Linked DNA regions of Homo sapiens: region 1 is linked to region 2. A link means that fine-mapping ties the variant in region 2 to the expression of a gene that starts in the linked region. Tissue or cell type: whole blood. Region 2 holds a variant in brackets; the other region holds the start of a gene. All regions are shown on one strand. Distances are from middle to middle.

Region 1 (8,126 bases), 31 kb after region 2:
GATTGTCTATCAAAAACCTCAGCAAGCACCACACTTAGTGCGAGACATTCATATGTACTTTATAATAATTTGTTAACATGGATGTTGAAGTTTTATGCACTTTTTTGTACATTTTATTTTCCACAATTAAAAAGACTTTTAGGACACCATAAACCAAGAGCCAAATTATTCTTTTTTTTTTGAGATGGAGTCTTGCTTGGTCGCCTGTCACCCAGGCCGGAGTGCACTGGTACGAACATGGGTCACTGCAGCCTCAAGTCCTGGGCTCAAGTGATCCTTTTGCTGTAACCTCTTATGTAGCTGGGACGACAGGACCACAGGCATGCACCACCATACCAGGCTAGTATTTTTTTTTTTGGAGAGACAAGGTCTCACTTTGTTGCCCAAGCTGGTCTCAAACTCCTGGACTCAACCGATCTGCCTGCCTTAGCCTCACAAAGTGCTGGGATTACAGGCTTGAGCCATCATGCATCACCAGCCAAATTATTCTTAACAGTGAAATACTATAGGCATTCCTATTGACATCATAAACAAAACATGAATTCCCAATATATATAATAACATGATTCTGGAAGTTCTTTTTTGTTTGTTTGTTTTTTTGAGATGGAGTCAGGCTCTGTCGCCCAGGCTGGAGTGCAGTGGCTCAATCTCGGCTCACTGCAAGTTCCGCCTCCCGGGTTCACGCCATTCTCCTGCCTCAGCCTCCTGAGTAGCTGGGACTACAGGCGCCCACCACCACGCCCAGCTAATTTTTTGTACTTTTGGTAGAGATGGGGTTTCACCGTAGCCAGGATGGTCTCGATCTCCTGACCTTGTGATCCGCCTGCCTTGGCCTCCCAAAGTGCTGGGATTACAGGCGTGAGCCACTGTGCCCAGCCTGGAAATTCTAATCAATATAGGAAGATAAGGAAAAACATAAAATGTATAATTATCAAAAGGGAAAAAAGTTAGAGAAAATTTTTTAATTTTAAATGAAAAAGTATTTTAATTCATAATTGAATTTAATAGAGTGGCTAAATAATAAACATGTAAAAATCAATGGCTTTCCTATAAACTGCTAATAAATAGTTGGAAAGTAAAGTAGAAAAGTGCTCATTTACATTAGCAATAAAAGTGTATTAAATTCCTAGGAATAACTTTAACAGAAACAATAAAGACTTATGGAAAAAAAGCACAGTGAGGCTGGGCGCGGTGGCTCACGCCTGTAATCCCAACACTTTGGGAGGCCAAGGCGGGTGGATCACTTGAGGTCAGGAGTTCGAGACCAGCCTAACCAACATGGTAAAACCCCATCTCTACTAAAAATACGAAAAAAAAAAAAAAATAGCCAGGCATGCTGGCACACCTGTAATCCCAGCTACTTGGGAGGCTGAGGCAGAAGAATCACTTGAATCTGGGAGGCAGAGGTTGCAGTGAGCCAAGATCGCGCCACTGCACTCCAGCCTGAGTGACAGAGCGAGACTCTGTCTCAAAAAAAAAAACAAAAAATCTGTTCTTGCCAGGCACGGTGGCTCATGCTTTTAATCCCAGCAACTCAGACGGCCAAGGCAGGAGGATCACTTGAGCCCAGGAGTTGAGGCTGCAGTGAGCTATGATCATGCCACCACACTCCAGCCTAGGCAACAGACTGAGACCCCAACTCAAAAAAAATAAAAAACCTTCCTTTCTCACAGAAAACAAACTTCCGGATGGGTATTTTTTTTCTTGGGTGTTTTAAAACGATAAATTATTTAGAAGAGGGAAACAGGGTAAGCACACTTGCTGCTTGTGGGTGGAAGTTCTGCAGGAGAGGCTGGCAAGAGCTGATGCATGCAGGTTCACAGTGGTATCCGGGCTCCATGTTGGCGCCCATAGCTGTGCCTGCTGGCTTTTCTGCCCACTTCAGACAGAGGTCCCAAACCACTCCCACTCCCAACACGACTCTCACATCTGCTCACTACCAAATTCTCTCATTTCCAGGTGTCAGAAAAAAAGCAGCCATACCTGTCCTGGTCTCACTGTGCCAATGCATTTCATAACATCTCACCCAAAGTCTGCCTTCTCCACTTACATGCTGAAACTCGGGGCCAAGTGTCCATGAGCCACTCCCTGCTCTTCCTGTACCAGCCTAGCAGTCCTGGACAAGTCACTTTCTTCCCCAAGACCTTTTCTCCAATCTGTCCCACCAGGATCTTCTGAAGCATGAGGCAAAGCCGTGCTGACCTCCCTCTTCCTCAGACGTGCCCAGTCCAAGCTCATTCCTACACAAGAGCCCTCGTATCTACTGTTCCCTGTGCCTGGAAAGCTGGTCCCGATCCTGTGTCTGATCCTTTTCCTAGGTCTCGGCTCGGACAGGCATCTGGGACCCTCTTCAGGGGGGTTGTTTCAGCCCACCTGACTTACAGCATCCCCCTACCTGGGTCCCACTGTAACATATCATCTTGTTCTGTTTTCCTCACAGTACTTATCACTTCTCACTTCTTGAAATTATTTTTTTGTTTTCTTTCTTTTTTTTTCTTTTTTCTTTTTTCTTTTTTTTTTTTTTTTGAAACAGAGTCTCGCTCTGTCACCCATGCTGGAAGGCAGTAGTGTGATTACAGGTCACTGCAGCCTCCAACTCCTGGGCTCAAGTGATCCTCATGCCTCAGCCTCCAGCCTCCCAAGTAGCTGGGACCATAGGCACATGCCACCATACCTGGCTAATTTTTGTACTTTTTGTAGAGACAGGGTTTCCACATGTTACCCAAGCTGGTCTCGAATCCCTGAGCTCAAGCAATCAGCCTCCCAAAGTGCTGGGATTACAGGAATGAGCCTCTTTCCCTGGCCTCCCTTCATTTTTAATAAAAATTGTATGCACCAACTTAAGGTGTCTCCTGCCCTCTGGCTCTGCCCACATCTCAGTCCCTCCTTTCCTCTACGTCCCTGCCAGTCTTATCTCCTCTTGACCTTTCCGTCCCTCAGCAACTTCTACTATTTCCTTCTGCCCCAAATGCCTAGAACCACCACTCCCTCTCTGCCCAGCAAACTCCCTCTTCCCTCCTTTCAAAGTCCTCCAGCCTCACCTCTTCCCTGACGCCTGCCCTTGCTCAGAACACCTCCACGCAGGTGACAGATCACCCAGTCCAGGATCAGGCAGTCGCCTGCTCTCCTGAGCAGCCCATGTTCCTCCTCTGCTTTTCCCTGGCCGGCGGGGCCTACAGTCTGTCCATTTCACATGATCAGCCCCTGGGGGTCAGGAATTCTGCCTTGCACTGGCTTCATTATGAAGGTCATGCCCTGTATTCCTGCCTTGGCAACGGAAATGCTAGGTGAATGGTGGGTATGTGGATGAAACGCACAAGGCTCATGCCATTAAGGACACCTTCTGGCCGGGTCCCTTCTTCCCTCTCTCAGCCACCTCCTCCTGCTTGCTAAGCTTCCCCAAGAAGACAGACCCAGGCCCGCTCACCTGAGAGCCAGAAGAGGAGCAGGTAGAGTGTCAGCAGGGGCATCTTCTCTTCAGACAGGTCCCCGTTCCCCTCAGTGGAGCCTGGCAGCAGGAACAAACTACAGACTCCCAGCCTTCTGCTGGTACTCACTCTCGCCCTTGAACTTCCTCCTTCAGTCACTTCCCATGGGTGAAAGAGACTAAAAGAGGAAGGAGGTGGTTGGTTGGGCACCGTGGCTCAGGCCTGTAATCCTGGCACTTTGGGAGGCCAAGGCGGGCGGATCACGAGATCAGGAGTTCAAGATCAGCCTGGCCAACATAGTGAAACCCCGTCTCTACTAGAAATACAAAAATTAGCCAGGCGTGGTGGCGCACACCTGTAGTCCCAGCTACTCAGGAGGCTGAGACAGAAGAATCGCTTGAACCTAGTAGGCGGAGGTTGTAGTGAGCCGAGATCGTGCCACTTGCACTCCAGCCTGGGTGACAGAACAAGACTCTGTCTCAAACAAAAACAAAAAAAAAAAAAAAAAGAGGAAGGAGGTGGAAAGGGTGAAATTTCGAGGCAGTTGACAATGCAAGGGGTCACAGGAATCATCAGCTTCTGAGAAGTACCTCTCTGTACACAGCCACCGTGGGTTCTCTAAAAAGAGAACTTCGTGGCTCCTCTGTCATGTGGAAACCTGCAGACAGATCCACTGGGTCTGGCCAGCCCTTATCCAATCCTCCAAACCTGGTGGGTTGGCTGGGGGCAGGGGCACGCGGCTCCACCAGAGGGGTCCTGGAGAGCCACGGCTGATAGACACGATGTCCTAAACCTGGAGCTTCAGGTGTAGCCAGATGCTTGGGAGCCCAGAAGGCCAGAAGTTCAAGAGGATTGAGGGGCACTTGTGGCCAAAGTCAGAAAGCCAGAGGAGAGATTCCAGACCAAAGGTTGGAAGGCAGCTATGAGGAGATTGGGTATCCAACCCCAGACTACAAGGCCAGGTACGGTGGCTCACACCTGTAATCTCAGCACTTTAGGAGGCTGAGGCAGGAAGATCACTTGAGGCCAGGAGTTCAAGACCAGCCTGGGCAACATGGCAAGGCTTCATCTCCACAAAAAAAAAAAAAAAAAAAAAAAAAAAAAGTCAGGCATGGTGGCTCATGCCTGTAATCCCAACACTTTGGGAGGCCAAGGTAGGCAGATCACTCCAGGTCAGGAGTTAGAGACCGGCCTGGCCAAAATGGTGAAACCCCATCTCTACTAAAAAATACAAAAATTAGCTGGGCGTGGTAGCATTCACCTGTAATCCCAGTGACTCGGGAGGCCGAGGTAGGAGAATCACTTGAACCCAGGCGGCAGAGGTTGCAGTGAACCCAGATCGCACCACTGAACTCCAACCTAGGCAACAGAGCAAGACTCTGTCTCAAAAATAATAACAATAATAATAATAATTAGTTCTGCAGAGTCATGCATGCCTGTAGTCCAAGCAATCTGGGAAGCTAAGGCCTGAGGATTACCTGAGCCCAAGAGGTCGAAACTGCAGTGAGCTATGATTGAGCCACTGTTCACTGTACTCCAGCCTGGGCAACAGAGCAGACGCTGTCTCTTTAAACACACACACACACACACACACACACACACACACACACGCACGCACAGAGAGGTTCAGAGAGAAGGGAGATGCAAGCAGGGAACTACTGGCCCACTGACAAGAGGCGCTTTGTCCTGAGAACACGAAGGAAGCTCCTACTGCTGTACCCCAGCCCACCAGGTGAGATCCCAGGGATACCTACATCTGGAATCTTCCAGAAACCTGTCCATTGTACCAGGGGGTCTACCTGAGGAAACCAGTTCATTGCTCAGGACTATTATCCCCTCGCTCCACCCCTCACCTTATAACTATTTGTTGAAGGAAGGAAGGAAGAAAGGAAGGACCAGTTTTGCCCCTCACTCTCCTCCTTCTGACAATCATGTCCATCCCCCATCTCTCCTTTCCCATCAAGACCCCAGCAAGTCCCTAGGGTCGGGACTGGGGATATAAAAGGATTAGGAAGGGCCAGACTCAGTGGCTCACACTTGTAATCCCAGCATTTTGGGAGGCCAAGGCAGGTGGATCACCTGAGGTCAGGAGTTCGAGATCAGCCTGGCCAACATGGCAAAACCCCGTCTCTACTAAAAATACAAAACTTAGCCGGGTGTGGTGGTGGGTGCTTATAATCCCAGCTACTCAGGAGGCTGAAGCAGGAGAATAACTTGAACACAGGAGGTGGAGATTGCAGTGAGCTGAGATCGCACCATTGCACTACAGCCTGGGCAACAAGAGTGAAACTCCATCTCAAAATAAATAAATAAATAAAAATAAATAAAAGGATTAGACCTTTCTCACCTTCTGCACCTGGAGCCACTTTTGCCATGTGTCACATACACCCTGTGACATCTTGACAAGGGAGTGAGTCTCAAAGAGGGACGCAACCCCCTCACACCCTAATCAGGAATGAGTGGGTGTGCAGAGGGTTATTTGCACAGAAAACCACAGCAGCTGATAAGCCATGGCTTTTCCAGGACGTGGCCAGAGATGGCTTCTCGCTTTACATATCTGCAGACCATAAAGTAGGTCAAGAATCCGGGGTGAGGGCTTGGCCAGCCCTTTGGTCCCTGCTGCATGTCAATAGGTCCTCTGCCCAGGGCACCATGCAGATACTCAGAGAGCAATCAGCCCTCTGCAGTAGGGAAGCCATTGGCTTCCAGGAAAAAGGACCAGGAATGGGGGCTGCCCTGAAAAACAAGGGGCAGATGCATCGAGGGTGGTGGGGTAAGCTTTCTTCTCCTGGGCATGAGCAACAAGGAGGGAACAGCACTGTCTGTTAGAACTGCCTGTGGCCAGACCCTCTGATCGTGGCCTCTCCCAGACCTGGCCTCCCCAAGAAGGATTCCCCTTTGAAACAAGAACAGAGAATTCAGGCCGGGCACGGTGGCTTACACCTGTGATCTCAACTCTTTGGGAGGCTGAGGCAGGCGGATCACCTGAGGTCAGGAGTTCAGGACCAGCCTGGCCAACATGTCGAAACCCCATCTCTACTAAAAAATACAAAAAATTAGCCGGGCATGGTGGTGGATGTCTGTAATTCTAGCTACTAAGGAGGCTGAGGCAAGAGAATTGCTTGAACCCGGGAGGCAGAGGTTGCAGTAAGCCGAGGTCACAACACTGCACTCCTCCAGCCTGGGTAACTGAGCAACACACTGTCTCAAAAAGAAAAAGCAGAGAATTCGCCAAGTGGTTCTGAGTAGCTGCTCCTCTAACCAAGTGCCTATGGGGAATACAGGGGAATCGGCTCTTCTGCAGGCCTTGCGTCCTCAAAAACTCATTTGAACCTGTAATCCTGGTTTGACCATTGACCTATACACAAGCCAGTTATATCCCTGGGCTTCCCTGTCCCCATATGTGAAAGCAGGGATTAGACAGGTCATCTGAGATTCTCCCTGCTCTAACGCACCTATGTATGTATGTATGTGTGTGTGTGCATGTATGTACGTGAATGGTTGAACCTGTCATTCTGCCCTGGCCTTGTGTGCTCTGCTAGGGGACTCTGTCTAGCACCTAAGAACCAGTCTCTGTTTTTATAAATCATAATTCTTCTCAGAAACCATTCCTGAGCCCTTTTAGTTCCCCTCACTTCCAATTGCACTTTATCTTTCCCAACCACTTGTGCTATGTTTCATATTTTCCATCATTATTACATTGAATCCTCACTATAAATCTAGAGGAAAGGTGATGCGTTTCTCATTTTTCAAAGAAATTGAGACGCAGAGAGCAAGTGACGTGTCCAAGGTCACATAGCTAGTAAGTGGCAGAGCCAAGATTCAAACCCAGGCCTGGTTCATATAAGCCATGCTGCCTTGTGTCAGGGTCAGGGAGGGGGCAGAGAAAGAGAGAGAGAGAGAGAGAGAGAAAACAGCCCTTAGATCCTGCTCAGTGCTGACAATGAAGAATTGATAAAGCAGAGAATCCCGGAGCTGGTTGTCACCAGGGCGTCCACTCCAAGGTTGTTTTTTAAACAAATTTCCTGGCCGGGTGCAGTGGCTCACGCCTGTAATCCCAGCCCTTTGGGAGGGCAAGGTAGGCGGATCACCTGAGGTCAGGAGTTCAAGACCAGCCTGACCAACATGGTGAAACCCTGTCTCTACTAAAAATACAAAAAATTAGCTTGGCATGGTGATAGGTACCTGTAGTCCCAGCTGCTCAGGAGGCTGAGGCAGGAGAATCACTTGAACCTGGGAGGCAGAGGTTGCAGTGAGCTGAGATCGCACCATTGCATTCCAGCCTGGGCAACGAGAGCGAAACTCTGTCTCAAAAATAAAATAAAATGAAATAAAACAAATTTCAGAATGAAAGAATGTTTTATCATGCACTGAAAACTGACTTATTAAGCAGGTAACTGATACCACCAGCCTTGAACATTTTCCAGATCTCATGCCCCTCTTCTGCAGTGTATGGAATGGGAATCTGGGCCTTACCCAAGTTCTTGTCCAGGAATTCAGGCACAGGCAAAGCTTATTTCTGAGAAAAATAGGCGTCTCCAAAGAGTGAGTCTGAAAGTTTGTGTCTCTCGAATTTCATACGTTGAAACTTAACCTTCAATGTGATGGCATTACGAGGTTGAGCCTTTGGAGAGTAACTAGGTCAGGAGAGTAACTAGGTCTCCTGAATGGGATTAGTGCCCTTATAAGAAAGGCCCC
Region 2 (8,147 bases):
AGCTCCCTCCCTTCTCATTTGCTTATCAGCGCCTTTTCATTTGCTTATTAGCACCTTCTCATTTGCTTATTAGCAGACAGTTTCTACCCATCAACATGAGGATGCTATTTAATCATTTGTGCTTTTGCAAATGCACATGCTTTTAGGTATCTGAAACCAAGCTGTGCTTAAGTTCAAATTTTCTCTTACTTGCTAGCCTTCTGCCCCTGGCCACCACACACACAGACACACAGACACACACACACACACACACACACATGCCTGCACATGCACACATACGCACCCTTCCTCTCATGAGCTGTGGGCAGGGCCAGTGATCATCCGTTTTTGTTCTCTGTCTCCCCTTAGCTTTTGTTATGAGCCTTTTAAAAGCAAAGCAGGCTGGGTGCAGTGGCTTAGTCCTGTAATCCCAGCACTTTGGGAGTCCAAGGCAGGCAGATCACCTGAGGTCAGGAGTTCAAGATCAGCCTGGCCAGCATGAGGAAACTCTGTCTCTAGTAAAAATACAAAAATTAGCTGGGCGTGGTGGCAGGCGCCTGTAACCCCAGCTACTTGGGAGGCTGAGGCAGGAGAATCACTTGAACCCGGAAGGCTGAGGTTGCAGTGAGCCGAGATCGCACCACTGCACTCCAGCCTGGGCAACAAAGCAAGACTCTGTCTCAAAAAAAAAAAAAAAGGCAAAGTAAACATTTCTCCTCCTCTTCTTCCTCCCTCGCCTGTTTGAATTTTGCATTCATACCCTCTCCCAGCAACTCTGTTTATTAAAAATCGGAACTGTCATTTATTAGAGCAGTACCCCTAGGGGAGAGTCAGGAACTGGTAACACCTTCCCCAAGCTCACAGTGAGAAGCAGTGTAAGCTTTGGAAGGGAATAAAGTCTGGTACACAGTCCAGATGAGGCAGACACCCCCTTTCAGCCCCTGGAGTCTCCCTCCTCGCCTCCCCCATGCCTTTACCCAGATCCTTCCTCCTTCTCTGGGTCCCACCTCAGGTTTCATTTGGTTATCAGGTAAGAAATATTAAAAATCATCTCTGCACTATAATCCAAAGGGACCCAGTAAGACTAATAATTGTTCCCAATACATTATCCAAATAAGCATATGGTTTATTTCTGCAGCACTTTACAGTTTGCGAAACACTTTAATATATGCCAAGACATTTTATACTTAACATATGCTTTTTCCAGAAGATGTTACTATTAAACTAATTAATGTCCATATTAATAGGACAGGGAAACAAAGGCCAGATGGCTGGGCATGGTGCTTCATGCCTGTAATCCCAGCACTTTGAGAGGCTGAGATGGGCAGATCATGAGGTCAGTAGTTTGAGACCAGCCTGGCCAACATGGTGAAACCCTGTCTCTACTAAAAACACAAAAATTAGCTGGGTGTGGTGGCGGGCACCTGTAATCCCAGCTACTCAGGAGGCTGAGGCAGGAGAATTGCTTGAACCCAGGAGGCGGAGGTTGCAGTGAGCTGAGATTGCGACACTGCACTCCAGCCTGGGTGACACAGCAAGGCTCTGTCTCAAAAAAAAAAAAAAAAAGAAAGAAAGAAAGAAAAAACTGACTTGCTCAAGGTCATAGCCAGCATTGTGGAAGCCTGAATCATTACAGCAGACCCTTAGATAGCACTTGCATGCCATGTAATATTCTAAGCACTTAGCATCTCTTAACTCACTTAATCCTACAACAAACCTATTTTAATCTCATTTTACAGATGAGTAAACTGAGGCATGGAGACATTAAGAAATTTGCCTATAGTCAAATCCAAGCAAGGTAGACAGGCAGAGGGATAGAGTCAGGAGAGGACAAGGGGCTTCACCAAGAGGGTCACAGATGGTCACTACTTTAGGGCATTGACAGCAGTCCATTGTGTGGCCTTCAGCTCTGTAGAGCTGGTTTTGCTCACTCACTCAAGAGTGGCTCCATCTCTCCAGTCAGGCTGATGTTAATCAGACTCACAAGACATGTATTGCCCTAGATGCCAAGCCACATTATAATCAGGAGATTTTTTTGTTCGCTAAGCATGAAATCCAGGGGAAAAAATGGAACTTGGAGGATTCAAATGTTTAATGCTATCAGGCTGACATGAGTTGGTAGCTGGCTACACTATAGGCACAGCCTCAATCTACGACCCCACTGGCCCCTTCTACCCTTAGGTCCTCTCCCCTACCCCTTGCCCCACCTCTGCCTCCCTCAGCTGTATATATTTAACTGCCTTGGGCCGGACAGTCATTCTATTCTCTCCAGGTCTGTATTTCCTGCAATCCTTTAAGAACTCCTTGCCTTTGAGCTTGAGAATTCCCTGGACTTGACCTGGTTATGGGGAGGGAAAGGGAAGGGATGTTCCGTTCATCATCGCCAGAGTTGTCATTTCATACTTCTTCCTCCATCTCACTCAAGGCCTGTGTCAGAGCCTTAGGGACTTGGATTTCAGGGGCAAGAACCATGGAAGAGTAGAAAGGTGATTGGGGACATTTCCTTATACCCCACCACCACCCCTGTTCACATGCTCCCCTTGAAATCTGATATTTCTGCCTGAGAATCCTGAGAATCAATTCAGCAAATATTTACTGCGCACCACATGCCAGTCCCCAGGAACAAAACCCACTCTTCATTCCCCAAGGAGCTGCGTCCAGCAGGCTGGGTGGATCAGAGGGATGGCACAGGCAGAGATGGCTCAGGCCACATCTGACTGCAGCTCAGTGTGCCACGTGGACCTTGGTGCCCATGAAGGTCAAAGACCTCTAGTCCCATATAGTGGGAAGCTGAGCCCTTGGGGACCAGGTCAAAAGCTTGCAGCTCTCGAGGCTGCCAACTTCTGGCTCCTGGCTGATTGACGGATCTGAGGGGTTATAAAGCCCAAAGTCCCAGGATGGGGCCCCACCTCTGAAGGTCAGAGGGCTCTGAGCCCCTCAACACAGGGATCCCTTCAAGCCCATGTCCAAGAAAGGAAGAGACTCCTGTTGCACTTCTGAGAAGTGCCCAGTGCAAAGACCCCTGTCCAATTGTGGCAGAGTCCAACACATAGAAACTAAGCTGGATCCCTTCCATGACCATCTCCAAAGACATGGGCTGAAAAACACTCAACCAAACCCAAAACACCAGGATCCCAGCCCTTGGGATGACAGTGTGGCACACAAAGAGAGGCTTGGGAAAACAGAGGGGCACGCCACGTGAGCTCTGCAGGCATGTCCTCCAGGACCCTCACTCTCCTTTCCCTGAAACCAGGTCTCCTCCAGACAGCAGGCACATGAGAACCAGCATAGCATAGGCCCTGACCATCACCTGTCCTGACCACCACCTGTGCTGTCTACCACCTGTCCTGTTCACCACTGGTTCCATCCACCACCTGCCCCATCCATCACTTGTTCTGTCCACCACCTGTCTTGTCTACTGCCTTCCCTCTTCACCCTCATCCTGTTCACTACCTGCCCTGTCCACCACCTGTCCTGACCACCTTCTGCCCTGCTCACTGATTTTCTTAGAGTAGGAGGCAGCTCATTAGCAGAGAAAGAGAACTGGGCTTTGAGTACCAAAGAACCAAGCTTTATCCCTGTCTCTGCTGTTAGCCAGCTGTACATTCTAGGTCATTCCATTCCAACAGCACTTTCCAACTTGCAGAAAACTTGCATATAAATCATTTCGGTTGAATTCCCCAGCACTGTGTGTAAAGAGAACAGGCATTATTCTTGACTGCAAAAGGGGAAATCTTGTGATCAGGACTCTCGATTTCCAGTGACAAAACCCAACTCAAATTGGCTTAAGCCGAAAAGAGAACTCATTGGTTCCTGTACCAGAGAAGCCTAGGGAGTGCAGCTGACATCGAGCTCAGCTGGTCCCAGGGACTCTCAGTGACTTCGGCCTCACTCTCTGTCTCTCTCTCTCTCTCATTTTTCTCTCTGGCTTGGCTCCATTCACAGGCAGGCTTCTCCCCGTGGGGCCCCATTATTGACAGCAGCCCCAGGATCACATCCTCACAGCTCCCAATTCCAAACAAAGTCCTAGACCCAATACTCACTGGAGACTGAAATTGCCACATGCCCACCCCTGAACCAATACTATAGCCAGAGGGTAGAACATGATGGACGGCTTAAGCTCGGGTCACATGTCCACCCCGAAGGTGGAGTCAATCCCACCCAAGCCCTGTAGATCAAGAGTGGAAGAAAATGGGCCGGGCGTGGTGGATCATGCTTGTAATCCCAGCACTTTGGGAGGTCAAGGCGGGTGGATCACCCGAGGTCGGGAGTTCAAGAACAGCCTGACCAACAT[G/A]GGGAAACCCCTTCTCTGCTAAAAATACAAAATTAGCCGGTTGTGGTGGTGCATGCCTGCAATCCCAGCTACTCAGGAAGCTGAGGCAGGAGAATCACTTGAACCCGGGAGGCGGAGGTTGCGGTGAGCCGAGATTGCACCATTGCACTCCAGCCTGGGCAATAAGAGCGAAACTCCGTCTCAAAAAAAAAGAGTGGAAGACAATGGTTTCCAGGGAAAATGGGATGGTGTCATCTGGAGGCTAGCCATGCAAAAACAACAGATGTCCCATGGTAATCCAGGGCAAGGCTGAGTCCCAGCATTTTCAAATCTTTAATGAGAAGTGCCTGAAAAGAAATGAAGAGAACTTGTCACAGTCCCACCTGAACTGGCCTCTTGGTGCCTCACACATAGTGTCATTTAAGACTAAATAACTGGATTTGGGTTATTAATGACTGGACTTGGGAAACAAACTGCTGTCACCCTATGAAGCGATAGGCTTATTGGGGCTGCAGAGCCAGACCTCCCTCTATGGGTGGGAGTAGAATTTTCTCTGAAGGAAATAGATGATCCAACTGTGGACCATCCAGGGAAGAGGTTGATTGGAGCAGGGAATGAGGATTCAGGAAGCTGACGGAGCTCAGACAGGAATGAGGGGAAGCTCTTCCGCCTCTCTTAAGGACCATGGTTAGCTGCTATGGAGACGCCTGAATTTTTCCATTGCTGTGTAGGGCGTGTCAGCCCAGGGCTACATGAACACAGATGAGAAGTGAGGCAGAAAAGCACCAAACAAGGCCAACTTTATGAGTATGCCACCTACAAAGTCACATAACGCCCTGCACTTAGAAGGGCCCTGCATTTGGTTTAACACTTTGCATTCGCCATCTTTAAAGTCTTAATAATGTTTGTACAAGGACCCCTGTATTTTTATTTTATATAGCCATTCTTGCTGCCAGATAAAAACCCCTGCAAGGTCTGAGCCTGGCTCTGTGGGGTAGTTTTGAGCTATTCCCTGGGGCACCTCTGCCTTCTGATGGCCTCACACCACGCCTGGTTTTGGATGTGCCTCGAGTAACCAGGGAAGAGTCATCTTATGCTTTGGGCCAGATGGCAAAGGAGTGGGCAGCACCACAGTGGCATTCACTGTCGAGGGGTGGTTGCGTCCCCAGGACAGCATCTGCGAGGGTCACGGGCAGCAGGAAGTGTGGCCTGGAAGGCAGATCAGACAGTCCGAAGGTGGGTGGGTGGGCAAGTCCTCAGGGGTAAGTGGCTGTGACAGAGGCAGGGGAAGAAGTAGACAGGGATCATGTTTGTGATCTGAGCATTGTGCTGAAAAAACAATAAGTTCATATTGGTGGCTATTAGTGAATAATGAGAGTCATTATTTTATTTATTTATTTATTTATTGAGACGAGTCTCTCTCTGTCACCCTGGACTGCAGTGGCATGCACTCTGCCTCCTCTGCCTCCTCACTGCAACCTCTGCCTCCCAGGTTCAAGTGATCCTCCTACTTCAGCCTCCTGAGCAGCTAGGATTACAGATGTGTGCCATGAAGCCCTGTTAATTTTTTTTTTTTTTTTTAGTAAAGATGGTATTGGCCAGGCTGGTCATGAACTCCAGACCTCAAGTGATCCACCTGCCTCAGTCTCCCAAAGTGCTGGGATTATAGGCGTGAGCCACCACACCCAGCCAAGAGAGCCATTATTATTAATATATTTAATTGCAAAATTTGAAAAATGAAAAACAAAGAAAAAATTTCCTGTGATGCCAGTGTTTCAAAATACATATCTTAAAAATAAAAATGGACTGCGCACGGTGGCTTACGCCTATAATCCCAGCACTTTCGGAGGCCGAGGTAGCTGGATCACTTGAGGTCAGGAGTTTGAGAACAGCCTGACCAACATGACGAAACCCTGTCTCTACTAAAAATACAAAAAAGTTAGTCGCGCATGGTGGCGGGTCCCTGTAACCCCAACTACTCAGGAGGCTGAGGCAGGAGAATCACTTGAACCTGGGAGGCAGAGGTTGCAGTGAGCCAAGATTGTGCCACTGCACTCGAGCCTGGGTGACAGAGCAAGGTTCTGCCTTAGAAAAAAAGAAGATGAAATTGCCATGTAAAAATACATGCATGTGTTTATTTATACATATGTGTGAGATAGATAGATAGATAGATAGATAGATAGATAGATAGATAGATAGATCCATCATAGGAATTTTGTTATACACATTTTTACCTTCATTCTTTTTAATCACTACATAGAATTCCATTGTATAGATAAGTGAAAATTCATGGTTTATTCTGAAATTTTGAAACTCATAGAAAGGTACAAAAACTAGAAGAACAAAAAGAAAATGACACATGTACCTACCATCTATATTTACTAAATGCTAACATTTTGCCTTAAAAAAAAAAAAAAAGAAGGCTCCTATAGGTAGCTGGGATCCACTTTGCAAGATAGCCATGGGATAGAAGGTTAATTGGGTTACTTTGTTTTTGTTTTGATATGGAGTCTTGCTCTGTCACCCAGGCTAGAGTGCAGTGGCGCGATCTCGGCTCACTGCAACCTCTGCCTTCTGGGTTCAAGCGATTCTCCCACCTCAGCCTCCCAAGTAGCTGGGATTACAAGTGTGCACCATCACACCCAGCTAATTTTTTGTGTGTTTTTAGTAGAGACAGGGTTTCACCATGTTGACCAGGCTGGTCTCGATCTCATGACCTCAAGTGATCTGCCTGCCTTGGCCTCCCAAAGTTCTGAGATTACAGGCGTGAACCACTGCTCCAAGCCCTAGTTTGGTTACTTTGAAATCACAGCCTGATGGGTCTGCGGCACTTTTAGTTACACTCCATTTCGTAGAAGAGAAAAGAGATCTGAGAGACATTCAGTGGTTGTTCAAGGGCACTCAGCAGGGAATAAAAGAGAAACCCCAATCCAAGCTTCAACTCCAGACCCTAACTCTTCTCCTTATCCCTCCCTAGATTCCCAAGGTCCTTAGGAAAGGGAAGGCTTGGACTGGAAGCTCCCCCAAACCCCTTTATCACTGACCTCCAGAAATGCTAGTGAAGCCCAGGTGACAATCTCAGCCTGGCCCAGGATAAACACCAAAGCAAAATCAATGCCAGTGGGAGATATTCATTCACAAAGTGGATTCAAGACCCTGCGTGCAGAGCTGCTCAGATGAAGCAGGCCCAAATGCAGTTAGTCACCGTTAATTGGGTCTCAGGAGTGGAGGAGCAAACAACAGCATCCCCTGGGGATTTGCCTCCATCAACCCAAGTGCAGGGTAAGAAGCCCAGGAAAGCAAGCCAAGCTTTGCAAGCACCAGCACTGCCCCTGGGCAGACTCTCCTTCACTCTATCTCCACGTTCTCTCCCATTTGCCCTCATATCTTGTTATATTTTTTTTTTCTTGAGATAGAGTCTCACTCTGTCACCCAGGCTGGAGTGCAGTAGTGCCATTTCGGCTTACCGTAACCTCTGCTTCCAGGTTCAAGCAATTCTCCTACCTCAGCATCCCAGGTAGCTGGGGTTACAGGCACACGCCACCATGCCTGGCTAATTTTTTGTATTTTTAGTACAGACGGGGTTTCACCATGTTGGCCAGGCTGGTGTCAAACTCCTGAGCTCAGGCAACCCACACGCCTCAGCCTCCAAAAGTGCTGGGATTACAGACGTGAGCCACCAAGCCCGGCCTATTATTATTATTTTTGAGATGGAGTCTCGCTCTGTTGCCCAGGCTGGAGTACAGTGGCACCATCTCAGCTCACTGCAACCTCTACCTCCTGGGTTCGAGTGATTCTCCTGCCTCAGCCTCCCGAGTAGCTGGGATTACAGGCGTACACCACTACACCTAGCTAGTTTTTGTATTTTTTTTAGTAGATACGAGGTTTTGCCATG

Evidence for each region. PIP is the estimated chance that this variant, and not a neighbour inherited with it, causes the effect.
Region 1: CD300LF starts here. The variant in region 2 is fine-mapped to the expression of CD300LF in whole blood (TOPMed, PIP above 0.99).

Annotation. Positions count from the first base shown.
Region 1 is chr17:74,709,397-74,717,522 of GRCh38, forward strand. CD300LF (CD300 molecule like family member f) reads right to left here and starts at 3,527. Exons shown (of 7, transcript NM_139018.5): 1 at 3,428-3,527. The coding sequence starts at 3,470. It also overlaps a transcript of RAB37 not described here.
Region 2 is chr17:74,678,450-74,686,596 of GRCh38, forward strand. It overlaps a transcript of RAB37 not described here. Among named protein-coding and RNA genes, the nearest start is that of RAB37-AS1, 4.9 kb to the left of the region's middle. The variant G/A (reference allele first, on the strand shown) is at 4,274.